Linked DNA regions of Homo sapiens. The protein of the gene in region 4 purifies or fractionates together with the protein of the main gene of each other region. This does not show direct contact. Each region holds a gene or a part of one and is shown on either strand. Other genes may lie near its edges.

The links. Proteins that work in one complex are often made in the same cells at the same time.
Region 1: the proteins of PPP1R7 (region 4) and ARHGEF1 fractionate together in Homo sapiens (co-fractionation; one large-scale study listed by BioGRID). This does not show direct contact.
Region 2: the proteins of PPP1R7 (region 4) and PACS1 purify together in Homo sapiens (affinity purification with mass spectrometry; one large-scale study listed by BioGRID and IntAct). This does not show direct contact.
Region 3: the proteins of PPP1R7 (region 4) and PPP1R2 fractionate together in Homo sapiens (co-fractionation; one large-scale study listed by BioGRID). This does not show direct contact.

Annotation. Positions count from the first base shown.
Region 1 is NC_000019.10:41,896,684-41,900,259, reverse strand, and holds part of ARHGEF1 (rho guanine nucleotide exchange factor 1), read right to left. Parts: intron 2,946-3,576; coding exon of another isoform or gene 2,934-2,945; intron 2,315-2,933; coding exon of another isoform or gene 2,147-2,314; intron 1,819-2,146; coding exon 1,673-1,818; intron 1-1,672. UniProt on the Homo sapiens protein: Seems to play a role in the regulation of RhoA GTPase by guanine nucleotide-binding alpha-12 (GNA12) and alpha-13 (GNA13) subunits. Acts as a GTPase-activating protein (GAP) for GNA12 and GNA13, and as guanine nucleotide exchange factor (GEF) for RhoA GTPase.
Region 2 is NC_000011.10:66,241,272-66,245,320, forward strand, and holds the end of PACS1 (phosphofurin acidic cluster sorting protein 1), read left to right. Parts: intron 1-155; coding exon 156-382; intron 383-1,640; coding exon 1,641-1,760; intron 1,761-1,893; coding exon 1,894-2,009; 3' UTR 2,010-3,473; downstream 3,474-4,049. Other genes in the region: uncharacterized protein LOC124902694, read right to left, coding at 3,778-3,841. UniProt on the Homo sapiens protein: Coat protein that is involved in the localization of trans-Golgi network (TGN) membrane proteins that contain acidic cluster sorting motifs.
Region 3 is NC_000003.12:195,526,250-195,529,825, reverse strand, and holds part of PPP1R2 (protein phosphatase inhibitor 2), read left to right. Parts: coding exon 1-32; intron 33-1,923; coding exon of another isoform or gene 1,924-2,068; intron 2,069-3,576. UniProt on the Homo sapiens protein: Inhibitor of protein-phosphatase 1.
Region 4 is NC_000002.12:241,180,665-241,185,134, reverse strand, and holds the end of PPP1R7 (protein phosphatase 1 regulatory subunit 7), read right to left. Parts: intron 2,489-4,470; coding exon 2,312-2,488; 3' UTR 1,483-2,311; downstream 1-1,482. UniProt on the Homo sapiens protein: Regulatory subunit of protein phosphatase 1.

The DNA of each region.
Region 1 (3,576 bases), on a different chromosome or scaffold from region 4:
TGGGTTCAAGCAATTCTCCTGGCTTACTCTCTCGAGTATCTGGGATTACAGGCATGCGCCACTATGCTTGGCTAATTTTTGTATGTTTAGTAGAGATGGGGTTTCACCATGTTGGCCAGGCTAGTCTCGAACTCCTGACCTCAAGTGATCTGCCCACCTCGGCTTCCCAAAGTGCTGGGATCACAGGCATGAGCCACTGTGCCTGGCCTAGTGCATTTCAAGTGCTCACCAGCCATAGGTGGCCGATGGTCCCCATGGTGAGCAGTACAAATAAAGCACATTTCCATCTTCCAGAAAGTCCTAATGGGTAGCACATGGCTCATGTTTTTTTTTTTTTTTATCATGTCCTTAGAAGGATCTGTGACCCAAAAAGTACTCAACTACTCCCCTAAAATTTTTGAATAAGTATCTTTTTCACTATGAAGTAATCTGTAAATAAGCTTTCAGTCAAGTCCCAAACCTTTCTCTTGGGCTAGGCACAGTGGCTCACGCCTGTAATCCCAGCACTTTGGGAGGCTGAGGCGGGCGTTCGAGACCAGCCTGACCAACATGGAGAAACCCCGTCTCTACTAAAAATACAAAATTAGCCGGGCGTGGTGGCACATGCCTGTAATCCCAGCTACTCAGGAGGCTGAGGCAGGAGAATCACTTGAACCTGGGAGGCGTAGGTTGTGGTGAGCCGAGATTGTGCCATTGCACTCCAGCCTGGGCAACAAGAGCAAAACTCTGTCTTAAAAAAAAAAAAAAAAAAAAAGCTTTCTCTTTTTGCCACCAGCCTCCCTAGCCACCACACAATTAGCAAAGGAAAAAAGGAAAAAGACAAAAATGATACACTCATCATCTCTCCACGCAGAAGCAAGCACTGCTAATATACTGATCATTCTCCCAAACTTTCCCCTGTGGGGATCTTTTCTCCCCTAAGCAATTAAGATCAAACTAGTAACAACAATCTCATTAAAATGCTCTTCCTTGACTGGGCCTGGTGGCTCACACTTGTAATCCCAAGACTTTGGGAGGCTGAGGTAGGAGGATCACTTGAGCCCAAGGGTTCGAGACCAGCCTGGCCAACATGGCGAAACCCCATCTCTACAAAGAATACAAAAATTAGCCAGGCATGGTGGTACATGCCTGTTCAGCTACTCGGGAGGCTGAGGTGGGAGGATCAGTTGAGCCTGGGAGGGTAAGGCTGCAGTGAGCCGTGATTGTGCCACTGCACTCCAGCCTGAGAGACCAACTGAGACTCTGCCTCAAATAAAAATTTAAAAAAATAAATAAAATAAAATGCTCTTCCTCTGTGCCCAGCACTATGCTAAACATTTCACACAAATCATCTCATCTTCATGACAATATCTGAGGTAGGAACTATTAATGCCCACATTTCACAAGCAAGGAAATAAAAGCTTGCACCAGAAATGCAGTGTTCTCAACATCAGCACTGTATTGCACTACTAGAAATGTTTGGAAATGTCCCTTCCACAGTGGCATTCACATTCCATCAAAATGCTCTGTGTTGAAACAATCTGAACTTGGAACAAGAGGGAATTTGAAGCTGCCTTCAAGTTCTCCCGATGGTAAATGACACCAAGATGAACATCTCTCTGCGCCTGTCTTTGCCTTTGCCAGAGCTGGACTGTGTCCTTGGCCACAGTGGGGTGATGGGGGCAGTACTCACCGCTGATGACCTCCTGCCGCTTCACCTGGCTCTTGGGCAGGCTGTGCAGGGTGTCTGGGGGGACGAGTTCCCGCCAGCCGGGAGGCTCTTCTGGTTCAAGCTCCAGTCCCGACCGCCCCGGCTCCCCCTCATCTCCAGGCTCGGGGCTGTGGACAGAGGCCTTGTTAGGGCCCCAGCTTGGGCCATCCCAAGAAGCAGCCTTCAGCCTCTTAGAGCGTTCAACCCCGGTCAGTGGCCTTGGCATTCGATGCCCGCAGGGTGGCCCGTGCAGCAGACCAGGTCTCTAGATCGGACCACACTAGAGTTCCCAGATCTCTAGAAGCATTCTACCCCCTCCTCCTCCAAGGTCTGTGACCACAGTTGGCCTCAATGACCTCGGTCTCCAACGCCCATTCCTCTGTGACTCTGACAACAATCCCTCCCTGATTCTCCAGGCTGCCTTAGTGGATGGGGGAAGGGAGAGGGTTGACATACGTGGCTCGTCGGGCAGGGCCAAGCACTGCCGTGGCGGAACTGGGGTCCATGTCCACGTCGCTCCGGGAGCGGCCCCCACCCCGGCCCTTAGCCCCGAGGCTGCCCCGGGAAGGCCGGCGGCGGTCACTCACCCGCAGGCTCTCTGAGCGCCCCAGACGCCCTGATAGCCTGGACCCCGAGGCCAAGGACAGAGTCAGGCAGATGCCGGGGACAGAGACAAGGAGAGACCAAGACAAGAACAGAGACGAAGAGAAACCAGGACAGGGACAGAGACGGGGAGAGACCAGGGCAGGGACAGAGGTGGGGAGAGGCCAGGGCAGGGACAGAAATTGGGGAGAGACGAGGACAGGGACAGAGACGGGGAGAGACCAGGACAGGGACAGAGACAGGGAGAGACCAGGACCGGGGCAAGGGTGACCAGGACAGGGATCAAACATGCAACAGAAGAGAGGAGAGAGTCAGAGGAGTGGTGGGATTTTAGGGGCACTGGGGTAGTGGGGGGTCTTGGGGGAGGGGGGATACTGAAATTTGATGGGGGAAGGGATGGGGAACCCAGGATGGAGCATAGGACTGACCCCCTCCCTTCCCTGAGGCAGGGGGATGGCAACAGAGGGGGTGTTATGGGGTGGGGAGGATTTCCATACTTAGCTCTTCAACTGGGAGGGTGATGTCCCCACCCACCCCTCACAGGGAGTGAAGGGGAGGGAGTGGCCATGGGGAGAGGGGAGGGGCTGGGAGAAATGGGGGAGGGGCTAGCCCTTCCCCCACCCAGGGCCCAGGCACCCACCTCTTCCACCTTCTGGGGAGAGAGGGGCACAGGGTCAGAGGTGGGCCCAGATGGAACCTGACCCACCTCCCCGCACCCACCAAAGGGTCCCCAAAGCAGCGGCACAAGGACGGGCAGGAGGCAGAGCCTGCCCCCCAGCTGTAAGGGGGACAGGGCCCCCAGGGCACAGAGCAGAGGGGTGGGGGGTTGAGGGACGGGCACCAGGAGGCAGGAGCGAGGCGGGGGGTGGGGGGCAGGGGGCAGGGGGGCTTGAAAGAGAAGGGGAGGAAGGGCTGAAAAAATGAAAAGTGGCAGGGAGATCGGAGGGGGATGGAAGGTGGGGAAAGAAAACCCAGGTGAGAGAGGAGTGGGGAGGAAAGAGAGGAGGGGGAAGGTGAGAGAGGAGGGGGGAGGTGAGAGAGGAAGAGGGAGGTGAGAGAAGAGAGGGGAGGTGAGAGAGGAGCGGGGAGGTGAGAGGAGGGGGTAGGTGAGAGAGGAGGGGGGAGGTGAGAGAGGATGGGGGAGGTGAGAGAGGAGAGGGGAGGTGAGAGAGGAGGGGGAAATAAAGGAGATGGAAGGAGTGGTGGAGAGGAAGGGAGGAGGAGAAGGATTAGTGAAAAAAGGAAGGAGAGGAAGGAGCAGAGGAAAAAGGAAGGATAAAAGG
Region 2 (4,049 bases), on a different chromosome or scaffold from region 4:
TCCTACATGAGCTGCTCTGTGTGGCTGGAGGGAACAGAGCTGCAGCCTTCCTCAGCCTGCCCTCCCGGGGACTGGCATGGCCCCTACCCCATCAGGCCTATGTAGTTGGGAGCTGAAGGCAGAGCTGACCTCTCCTCTTTGTTCCCTTTCCTCAGGAGCCCTAATAGCCCATATGGGGACGTGATTGGCCTCCAGGTGGACTACTGGCTGGGCCACCCCGGGGAGCGGAGGAGGGAAGGCGACAAGAGGGACGCCAGCTCGAAGAACACCCTCAAGAGTGTCTTCCGCTCAGTGCAGGTGTCCCGCCTGCCCCATAGTGGGGAGGCCCAGCTTTCTGGCACCATGGCCATGACTGTGGTCACCAAAGAAAAGAACAAGAAAGGTAAGTACCCCCAAGGCCGGGGAAGACCATGGGCCACCAGGCCTCCCGTCTCGTCTCTCAGGGCCTGGGAATAAATCTGCTTTTGGGATATTTGGGATGAAGAAGCATCCCATGGTCTGGCATGGGGTGCAGAGGGGGCAGTCCCACCTCCCCTCGAGGGACAAGGCCATTCCTTCTGTCATGCAGGAAACCGAGGCTGCAGAGAGTCGCTTGGTCACTCTCTGCTGAGCTCCAGTACTTTAGGGGCTGAGGCAGCTGCCACTGTGTAATGAAGGGGGCCTTTCTGGCCACTGCTGTCCGGGATGGACTGCAGACAGGGAGAGGCCTCTCTATATCACAGCTCCAGGTCCCTGTGACGCAGGAGTAGAGAACTTGCACCCAGCCCTGGAGGCCTCTCCAAAGAGGCCTCATGAGCAAAAGGACGTGGTTGTGTTTTCAGGATTAAGGGGCATACAGTCCATTCTGGATAGCAGGGGTAGCTTAAGGAGCTGGAGGGGAGTTGGAGCTGGCCCGGCTCCTGTGCGTGGGAGTGAGGCAGGAACCCCCATGGCTGGGCCAGTGCTGCGGCAGCGCCTGCCACCGTTGGTGCCAGCTGGGGACCCGCAACTGGTAGTGCACCTGCAGCACTGGCATGACCCCAACCCCGCCTCCTTTGGGTGCTGCAAAGCAGCTGTGCCTATTTCTGTGTGTGACTCCCCTCTGCAGAGTTCCCCTGGGGGGTCAGGCATGGGGCTGTGCCAGGCCCACAGCCAAAACCCACGGCCTGCAGCACAGAAACTTGCAAGGGGAAGCTGCCTGCTCAGCAGTGACCTCCCTGCCCTTGCTTCCTTTCTGGAGTGGGAGTGGAACAGGGAGCACTCCCCGGCATCCCCAGGACAGCGTGAGGACAAACTCATGCTGCACTGGCTCCTGCATAGAGCATGCGCCTGATAGGGAGGCAGGCCCCTGCCCCACAGGCTGCCTAGAACGTTCCAGCTGGAAAGGACTTCAGAGACCATCTGGACCAAGGTCTTCACTGAACAGGCGAAGATATCGAGCCCCAGGGGGAGAAGTGGGACCTTAGCCAAAGTCACCAGCCCAGTGCTGGGACTGAGTCAGGAACCTGAAGATCCTGACCCACAGCCCAGTGCCAGGGAGGAGGGGTTGGTTTGCAGATCACCTCCCCTCGCCACAGGAAGAAGGGGACAGTCGGCTGGGGAGGAGAGGGGTGGCGGCTTCCCCAGGGGCTGGGACACAGGTGGCCTTGCTTGCTTTCCAGTTCCCACCATCTTCCTGAGCAAGAAACCCCGAGAAAAGGAGGTGGATTCTAAGAGCCAGGTCATTGAAGGCATCAGCCGCCTCATCTGCTCAGCCAAGCAGCAGCAGACTATGCTGAGAGGTGCGAGGGCAGGCAGGGCCGGGAGGAGGGCAAGAAAGGGACTGGAGAGGGAGGCAGGCAATGGCCTTTCCCAAGGGGCCCTGGGGAGATGGCCTGAGCAGTCTGGTCACCCCTCCTCTCCTGTCACCCCTAGTGTCCATCGATGGGGTCGAGTGGAGTGACATCAAGTTCTTCCAGCTGGCAGCCCAGTGGCCCACCCATGTCAAGCACTTTCCAGTGGGACTCTTCAGTGGCAGCAAGGCCACCTGAGGCCCTGTCTCCCAGCCACTTTCCCTCCTGGCACTGCCACCAGCCTCACCGCCTGCGGGCAGGGGGAGGCCAGCAGGCCCGGGCCCAGCACCCCTTCCCTGGCACCAGGGTCTGCCTCTCACTCGCCCAGGTCCCGAAGGACACTGCCACAGGGACGCCTTCCCTCCCCTCCCCTCCAGCCCACCCCTGCACAGCCCCTCCTCCTTCCCGCTTTTCCCCTTCTCCCTCCTGCTCCAGGCCCAAGGCGTGTTGGTTTTGCCTTCTGGTGCCCATAGTCCCCTGGACTGAGTCCCCCAGGCCTTCCTTCACCCGACTTCCAAACTCTTCCTTGTGGTATCAGTTTCCTTCTCGGAAATGAGAAAGCTGGAATCCTGGTCCCCAGCAGGAGAGCCTAGTCCTCCCCCAGCCCCTCCAGCCACCAGGGTGTCCTCTAGGATGCAGCTGCCAGATCCACTCACTCTGCTGCCTCCAGCAGGACCCAAGGCCACTTTCAACTCTTATGGGGTTCTCCACCTGCCCCAGAGCTTCTCAAGGGAGGGTAAGGGGGCACCCTGAGCCCACAGGACCCCTACTTCACAGCTCACAGGGGCAGGAGGCAGCTCCCCTGCCTCCAGGACCCTGTTGCTATGGTGACACAGCGTTTCTAGGACAGAGGGGCCTCCCAGTCTCCCCCCACCACCCGTGCACGACTTCCTCACCACCCCCAGGTTCCCTGCAGATGTCGTGTGTGTCCTGAGTGTTTCTTTGGTTCTTTGCACGCCAAGTCTCTTGGTTGTACCATGTGACACACCCTGTGCACTGGTCGCTGTCTTCGTGGCTTCCACCCTTGTTAATGATGCTCCTGCCTCTGCCTCCCAGCCCCTCACCCAGCACAGCTCTGCCTGGACTTGGAGAGATGGGAGGCAGACCCCCACCACCATACATGCTGTCTGTGGCCCCTCAGACATTCTGTTTCATCTCCCATTCATCTCCCTCCTCCCACCGTGTCAGTTTTTCTGCCTTTCCCTGCTCTGTTCTTCCCCCTCCTTAGGCCCCAGCCTGGGCCCAGACCCATCCTCCCAGCCAGGTTTCCCTCCAGCAGGCTCCTTCCCTCCCTGTCACCTCCCTCTCACCAACCCGGGGTCTGAGCCCCTCATTCCTGACCGTCCGTGTTCTCAGGAGTGGTTGAGGACACAGGGCCCCAGCCCAGCCCTCTGCACCCCCCAGCCCGGCCATCTGCGCCCCACAGCCCCTTTGGAGCTTTTCTCTTGTCCTCTCACTCCTTCCCAGAAGTTTTTGCACAGAACTTCATTTTGAAAGTGTTTTTCTCATTCTCCATACCTCCCCCAAGCTCTCCTCCAGCCCTTCCCAGGGCTCAGCCCTGCTGTCCTGAGCGTCTCCTGGGCCAGAGAGAGGAGATGGGGGTGGGAGGGACTGAGTTGATGTTGGGTTTTTCATTCAATAAATTGGTGATTTCTTACCGACTGCCTTGGGCTTCTATGCCCCCTCACTGTGCCACAGGAGCTGCCCAACCCCTTTTCCACAGTGCAGCCCAACTCCAGTGAAAATCCACCAGGAACGTAGGTGGAAAGAAGCGTACTCCCATGTTCTCAATCATGGAAACAGGCATGAAGGTGTCTCACCTGGCATGAGGCAGGCAGAGGTCGGAAACAGGAAAGATGTCATTTCCACACCAAAAGCCCGTTTTTCCCCAGGACCCACCATCCCCAAATCCACCTCCCAAGGCAGTGACGTGTTGAGTGTGGCTTCCCCATCTTCTGATCAAAGGTCAGAACTTAGCTTCTCTCCCCTGCTCCAGGTTGGTGAAGTCCGAGCCAGTGGGGTCTTTGCCTCTGCAGGTGGAGGGAATAGGGCTGAGGGACATCTGTGGAGTTCCTTTTCCTGCCCGCCCTTGACTTAGAGATGGAAAGCAGTGGTAGCCACTGTCCCCTGGGTGCCCGGTTTTTCCACTAGCTTCCAAGACAGGCCTGCACACACGAAGAAGTGTGTGCCTTCCCCATGAAGAAGTGCCCAGAGGTGGCCAGGCACAGTGGCTCACGC
Region 3 (3,576 bases), on a different chromosome or scaffold from region 4:
AAAATAGATGAACCAAGCACTCCTTACCATAGGTAATGTTACGTAGACGTCATTCCTCTTGTGACTTACTTCCATTTTGCATTTCATATGAACGTCTGGATAACAGCCTATTTGAATTTGTTTTATTGTAGATTTGTTACTGGAGCACTAGTGAAGTCAGTAACCTAACTGCAATTTGTTTAGTAATGGTTTAAGTGATGTGTAAGTTTAAAATTAAGAAAGCCATTTTGTACATTATAATGGTAGTAGTAAATGTTTATTTGTTGCACCTCAGTGGTTGCTAGCTACTAATGGTGCATATATTAGTTTTAACTTCCATGAAAGGAAGATGAGATATGGGCTTGTTTGCTTCCCAAGTAGAAATCTGGGGTTTACTCAGTCTCTTTGCAGAGAAGCATAACTGCATGGATGGTAACCCACTGAAAGATAGGTGTCATTATTACTGTTTATGTCTTCATTTTTTAACTTAATGTAATATTGTTGTTCAGATCATTACATGTAATTTTTGACAATTTCAAGTCTCAGAATTTCCTAAATGAATTGTGAAATTACATTACGCAGCAGTAACCAGTATGAAGACAAAAATAATGCAAGAAGCATTATGAGAAGATGAGGATTCTAAATAGGTATAGATACCTAATTAAGATAATACCTTGGGCCGAGCACTGTGGCTCACGCCTGTAATCCCAGCACCTTGGGAGGCCAAAGTGGGCGGATCACCTGAGGTGAAAGACCAGCCCGGCCAACGTGGTGAAACCCCATCTCTACTAAAAAAAAAAAAAAATACAAAAATTAGCCAGGCATGGTGGCGGGCACCTGTAATCCCAGCTACTCGGGAGGCTGAGGCAGGAGAATTGCTTGAACCCGGGAGACGGAGGTTGCTGTAAGCCAAGATCACACCATTGCACTCCAGCCTGGGCGACAAGAGCAAAACTCTGTCTCAAAAAAAAAAAAAAAAGATAATACCTTGGCTGGGCATGGTGACTCTTGCCTGTACTCCCAGCACTTTGAGATTACAGAGGCAGAGGTGGGAGTATTGCTTCAGGCCAGGAGATCAAAACCAGCCTAAGCAACATAGTAAGACTCTTTCTACAAAAAAAAAAAAAAAAAAAAAAAAAAAAAATAGTTATGCCCTACCTACCTTGTATTGAAAAAAATAAAAGATTTCCAAGATTAAAATATTTTGTCATTGAATTAAGACAGCATAAATCCAAAAGTTACCATTAAAATAGAGGTAACTGCTGTTTCCATTTGTTCTGTAGTGAAAGAAGAGTTAAGAACTACTGTATTTTAAGTCAGTGGGTGAAAACTTTGGAAGATAATTTGAAATAACCTGTTACTAACAAAAACAGTAAAAATAAAAAACTTGAAGATATTAAAGACTGATGAGCATAAAAAGAAATAATGAAATAGGTACAGATGCTGAAACTCAATACTGATGAAATTTGAGTGAAGAAATACACAGTTTTTTGTGGTATATATGTATGTACCATGGAATATATATAAAAAGGAACAAAATAATGGCATTCACAGCAACCTGGATGGAGTTGGAGACCATTACTCTAAGTGAAGTAACCCAGGAATGGAAAACCAGACCTTGTATGTTCTCACTTATAAGCGGGAGCTAAGCAAAGGCATAAGAATGATACAGTGGACTTTGGGGATGGGAGGGGTGAGAGGGGGTTGAGGGATAAAAGACTACACATTGGGTGCCGTGTACACTGCTCGGGTGATGGGTGCACCAAAATCTCAGCAATTACCACTGAAGAACTTACCTGTGTAACCAAACACCACTTGTTTCCCAAAAACCTATTGAAGTAAAAATAAATTGAGGGGAAGAAAAACAATAAAATTACAATTAGTTAAAAAAAAATACGCATGCTAAAAAGAGGTTTATATTCTTATTTTTCTCCTAAATTGCAGGTATATACTTTAAAAATCTTAAAAAAAAAAAAAGATACAAGATCTGGCTATGTTGCCCAGTGCAGTGGCTATTAACAGGCACAGTTATAGCACACTACAGCCTGGAACTCCCGACTCAAGTGATCCTCCCTCCTCCGCCTCCCAGGTAGCTGACTATGGGCACACATCACCGTGCCCAACTTCTAAAATGTATATTAAAACCTTTATTGTACCAGAATCCAAAATCAGAGTGTACTTTCTTTTTACTAAATGTAGTGGCCATCCGTCACTCACTTGTGTTAGTTGGGGATAAGTATCCTAGGAGAATTAAGATCAGACATGATTTAAAAAAATAGTTGAGGCCAGGTGCAGTGGCTCAACGCCTGTAATCTCAGCACTTTGGGAGCCTGAAGCAGGAGGATCGCTTAGCCTCCCAAAGAATGCTGTTTTTTATTTTTTATTTTTTATTTTTTTGAGACAGAGTCTCACTCTGTCACCCGGGCTGGAGAGCAGTGGCACGATCTCAGCTCACTGCAAGCTCCATGTCTCAGGTTCAAGAGATTCTCGTGCCTCAGCCTCCCAAGTAGCTGGGATTACAGGCACCCACTACCACGCCTGGCTAGTTTTTGTATTTTTAGTATTGACAGGGTTTCACCGTGTTGGCCAAGCTGATCTCAAACTCCTGACCTCAAGTGATCCACCCACCTCAGCCTCCCAAAGTGTGGGATTACAGGCATGAGCCACCACGCCCTTCCCCAAAGAACTCTTGCCCAGGAGTTCAAGACCAACCTGGGCAACAGAGTGAGACTCTTATCTCCACAAAAAAAATTAAAACAAATTAGACTAAGCACAGCAGCTCACGCCTGTAATCCCAGCACTTTGGGAGCCTGAGGCGGGTGGATCACCTAAGGTCAGGAGTTCAAGACCAGCCTAGCCAACATGGTGAAACCCCGTCTCTACTGAAAATACATAAAAATTCCCAGATGTGGTGGTGGGCGCCTATAACCCCAGCTACTCGGGAGGCTGAGGCAGGAGAATCACTTGAACCTGGGAGGCAGAGGTTGCAGTGAGCTGAGATCGCGCCATTGCACTCCAGCCTGGGCAACCAGAGCGAAACTCTGTCTCAAATAAAAAAAGTAAAATTATCCAGAGGTGGTGGTGTGTACTTGTAGTCCCAGCTAGCTAGGAGGCTGAGGCAGGAGGACTGTCTGAGCCCTGGAGGTTGTAGCTGCAATTAGCCATGATCACGTCATTGCACTCCAGCCTGGATGACAGAGGGAGACCTTATCTCTAAAGAAAAAGAAAAAAAATTTCAGAATAGCTATGGCCATTATTTTTTGACTGTTTATAAATATAATTTGAATGGTAGATATTTGCCATTCAAATAACCAGAAAAGTTATTTGGTCCCTAAGTAATTGAGGCTATGTGCATGCAGAGATAACCTGTGTCCTGCTTTTATCAGTTCACTGCTCAGTTTTATCATTTCTTTCCATGACTTTCTTTTTTCTTTTTGAGAGTTTCATTTGGCCAGCCATGGTAGCTCATCCTTGTAATCCCAGCACTTTAGGAGGCTGAGGTGGGAGGATTGCTTGAGCTCAGGAATTGGAGATGAGCCTGGGCAACATAGAGAGACCCCGTCTCTACAAAAAATAAAAAGAATTAAGCCAGGAATG
Region 4 (4,470 bases):
CCACCGCCCATGAATCACCAATTGCTCTGGAGCCTATCCTGTGTGTGATGCCAGGGAGGGGCAGTGTTCATTTTTCCACATAGTGCACTCTGCCAACATCATGAGGACACTGTCCACCCCTCCCCGACCCCCGGACACTTTTCCCAGTCCCCGAGTCCCCTGGGTTCCTGCTGAGGTGTCCCTGTCTTGGTGCTGTTAGGTCAGGCCTCCCCCCACACTCTCACTGTGGGTTTGCAGCACTCAGGATCTGGTAGGAAAGCGTCTCTCCCAGCTCTTTTTCAAAATGAATTGAATCACAATGTTGACTTTTTTCTTCCATATACATTTTAGAATTTGTCGGGCACGGTAGCTCATGCCTATAATCCCAGCTTTTAGGAAGGCAGAGGTGGGAGGACAGCTTGAGCCTAGGAGTTTGAGACTTGCCTGGGCAATATAGCAAGACCCTGTTCGCCAAAAAAGGAAAAAGAAAAAGCCGGGCACGGTGGCTCACTCCTGTAATCCCAGCACTTTGGGAGGCAGAGGCAGGTGGATCATGAGGTCAAGAGATCAAGACCATCCTGGCCAACATGGTGAAACCCCGTCTCTTCTAAAAATATAAAAATTAGCTGGGTGTGGTGGCATGTGCCTGTAGTCCTACCTACTCAGGAGGCTGAGGCGGGAGAATCGCTTGAGCCCGGGACGCGGAGTTTGCAGTGAGCACAGATCGCGCCACTGCACTCCAGCCTAGCGACAGAGCGAGACTCTGTCTCAGAAAAAAAAGGAAAAAAAATTAAATTTTAGAATTTAATGTGTCTCAAAAAATCAAATGGTGGCTGGGTGCGGTGGCTCACCCCTGTAATTCCGGCATTTTGGGAGGCTGAGGTGGGCGAATCACCTGAGGTCAGGAGTTTGGGACCAGCCCGGCAACATGGCAAAACCCCATCTCTACTAAAAATACAAAAATCAGCTGGGTGTGGTGGCGGGTGCCTGTAATCCCAGCTACTAGGGAGGGTGAGGCAGGAGAATCGCTTGAACCTGGGAGGTGGTGGCTGCAGTGAGCTGAGATTGCGCCATTGCACTCCAGCCTGGGTGACAGAGAATGACTCCTTAAAAAAAAAAAAAATCAAATGGCATTTTGATTAGGATTGTGCTGGATTTAGCATACCTTTCCTCATCACTTCCACATTTTTTGTATGTTTGTAAAAATGTCTGTTAAAGAACAGATGGCTGGGTATTAATTTGGAGCCTTTTAAAACTTGAGACAGGGTCTCCCTCTGTCACCCAGGCTGGAGTGGGTACAATCATGGCTCACTGCAGCCTCGCCCACATTGGACAGTACGGTTCTAGAGTCCTGGTTCCTCAAGTAGACGGTTCTAGAGTCTAGAGTCCCGGAGGCAGAAGGGACCTTGGTGACCACATGATGTGGCCCTCATTCTGCAGGAGGAGAAATCTGAGACCCTGGGAGGTGACGATGCCCTGGTAGCATTAAATCCAGACTTCGGGTGTCTGTCAATGTACATTTTATATTAAAAAAGCCAAAATAACAATGGGGTGAGAACAGGAGGCCACTATACCAGTGGCCAAGAGTTCAGATCCTTGGAGGCCGTCTTTGGAGAGGCTCAATGGGACTCGTATTCTGGCAGCAGCACAGCACCGTGTGGGACACAGGACACCCTCCCCACACCTGAGCTTTCACCCACAGGCAAGGGATGTGGCGAGAACTGACGGGCACACGTGAAAACAGTCAGCCCTGCCCGGCGCTCTTTGAAGGAGAGCTCTAAGGAACACAAGCACACAGGGCTGAGTCAGCTTTTACCCAGCTTTTTTAACTTACCTAATTTTTAAAAAATTGAAAATGGCTGGGTTAAAAGACTAAAAAACCTCGGTTGTTGCAGGTCAAGACTGCCTGAACCCTGCACACCAGGACTAGGGCCAGCTAGGCCAGCCCCCGAATGCCACTCGGACAGCACGTGAATGCCTGTAAAGCACTCTCAGGCCCTGTGTTTCACACGACTCAGGTAGGGACTGTGACTGCCTTCTGAGAGAAGGAAACAGGGATTTCTAGCGAATGAACGCAACGTGTCTTATGTTCTCTCTGTGGCTACAATAACTGTCAACAATCACCCAGGAGGACAGTGTGGCAAGATTTAATTGCAACGGCATCTGAAAATGGTGTGTGACGTCGCGCGCGCCAGCTATCGTCAGTGCCTTTATTGCCATTGGGTTTGTGACTGTTGATATAGTGACGACCTCAGGAGCAACAGGTGGGTTAAAAACCCGTGGCTGGGCAGTTCTTCCGAGGAGAGGGACCACATGAGGAGCCAAGAAGGACTCAGAACCTGACGAACGTGGCATCGATCTGCCGCACGGAGGGGAGGGCGAGCATGACCTTCCGCCGGTACTGGGGGTCCTTCTGCAAGGGGTTCCGCTCCAGGTACACTGTCTCCAGGCTCCTGGCTCCCTTCAGCTCGTCGAGGTCGCTCCAGCTCTCAAGGAGATTGTCGTTCATCTGGGGACACACACAGCAGAAAAGCCTTTAGAACCAAACAGCCCAGCCCTCGACTCTGGTGGGGTCCACTAGCCACCCTCCTCCTTCCCACTCAGAAGATGGCGAGCAGGTGTGGGTCTTCCCTGGCACCTCATGGGACCTTCCATGGCCTCTTGGTGCATCCTGGCCACCTTCAGCTGCATCCCAAGTACAAGTTACCTGTCCATAGCCAACCCTGGGCCAGTCACTATGACGGGGCCAAGTCCACATTCAGGTCAGCAGAGGAAGGACAAAGCAGTTCTGGCCACCTGCCTGCTACACTTGTCCATAGGCAAGTGTCAAAGCAGGGTGGGCTGCACTTTCTACAAACCAGTTCTCAGCCATCATTCCCAAGGCTGCACTCTGCGCCATCACTGTGACACAGCAGACAGAGGCCGCTCTACTTAAAACTCTCAACTCTTCTGTAAATTACCTCTATGGCTCTCTCCACAAGGAAGTCCCAGCTGCTGCTTTCACCCAATACCAAGTGCAGGGACACAAATCGTGAGCAGGTGGGATTCAGAGGTCTGAGTTGCAGGCTACATTTTACCATCTTGGCCCTGCCATGCCCAGTTGGAGGGACCTGCCTTTGGCAGGAAGAGTTCTCTTGCATTTTTTTTTTTTTTGAGACAGAGTCTCGCTCTGTCGCCCAGGCTGGAGTGCAGTGGTGCCATCTCCAGAACAAGGGGAGCCAGTCCAGCTTCAAACCCTGTTGGTCTGACCCTCCCTTTCAAACACCCTGTGTGTAGAAATCACATGTTCAGAGCTGCCCGGCCTCAGGGCCTGCCAGGCAAACCGCGGTGGCAAGAGCACGGGCACTGCTCCTGAAGAGGCAGCTGGACTTGACTGTGAACCTACAATGGGCACAGGCAGGGGCACTCGTTATAGGGTGACAGACTTCGACTCCTTTTACAGGGAAGTTAGGAAGGGAACTGTCCATGTGGAACGGAAGGCAAGCAGGGGCGTTCTACTCTGGGGCCCACACTGCCCACTGCCCTGCCCACAGCTGTGGTCCGACTGGGGGGTCCCTGCATGGACTTCTGGACCTCTGCTCTGCACAGCTCCCCTTCTCTCTGGGGCCCTGTCTGGCACACTCTAGCTGCCAGAGATGTTGATCTCTGCCTCTTCCACTCAGAAGTACTGTGTTCTGCTTGGGAAACATCCCAGGTAAGGAGTGGGGTGATCACGGGGCTCGCGCTGGAACTCCCTCCTCAGAGCCTGCAGGTGCGTGCTGCCTGCTGTCCACTGCCTGAATAGAGTTGTTTCATATTTTTCTATCTGTCTGTGGCAGGAGGGCTAGTTTTGCACCAGGTCCACTGTCACAGCCAGGCTGTCTTTAGTAACTTACCGTGTGTCAGGGGCTTCCCAGAGAGGAATATAACGTGCATCTCACAGGTTTGCCTGTTTGAGGAACCCTATTTTCTTTTTTTTGAGAGGGAGTCTCGCTCTGTCGCCCAGGCTGGAGTGCAATGGGGCAATCTCTGCTCACTGCAACTTCCGCCTCCTGGGTTCAAGCGATTCTCCCACCTCAGCCTCCCAAGTAGCTGGGATTACAGGCACTCGCCATCATGCTCGGCTAATTTTTGTATTTTTGTAGAGATGGGGTTTCACCACGTTGGCCAGCCTGGTCTTGAACTCCTGACCTCAAGTGATCCACCCGCCTCAGCCTCCCAAAGTGCTGGGATTACAGGCGTGAGCCACTGCGCCTGGCCTGAGGGACCCTATTTTCACAGAACCTTTTGTGGGACTAGTGCGTACCAGCCTTGGGAAACCAAGAATTCCAAATCCTAGAGCTTAGCCCTTGAAGAGGGACTGACACCTGCTGGGAGGAGCTGCACCACCAGGGCTGGTGCCCTGCTGCTGCTGTCCCGACCAGTGCCTCCATGTGGACGGGACGTGAGCGTACCTTCTTAAATGCTACTCTGTTACTACACTCGCACCGCCCCGCTGGTTGTGTGGCCAGT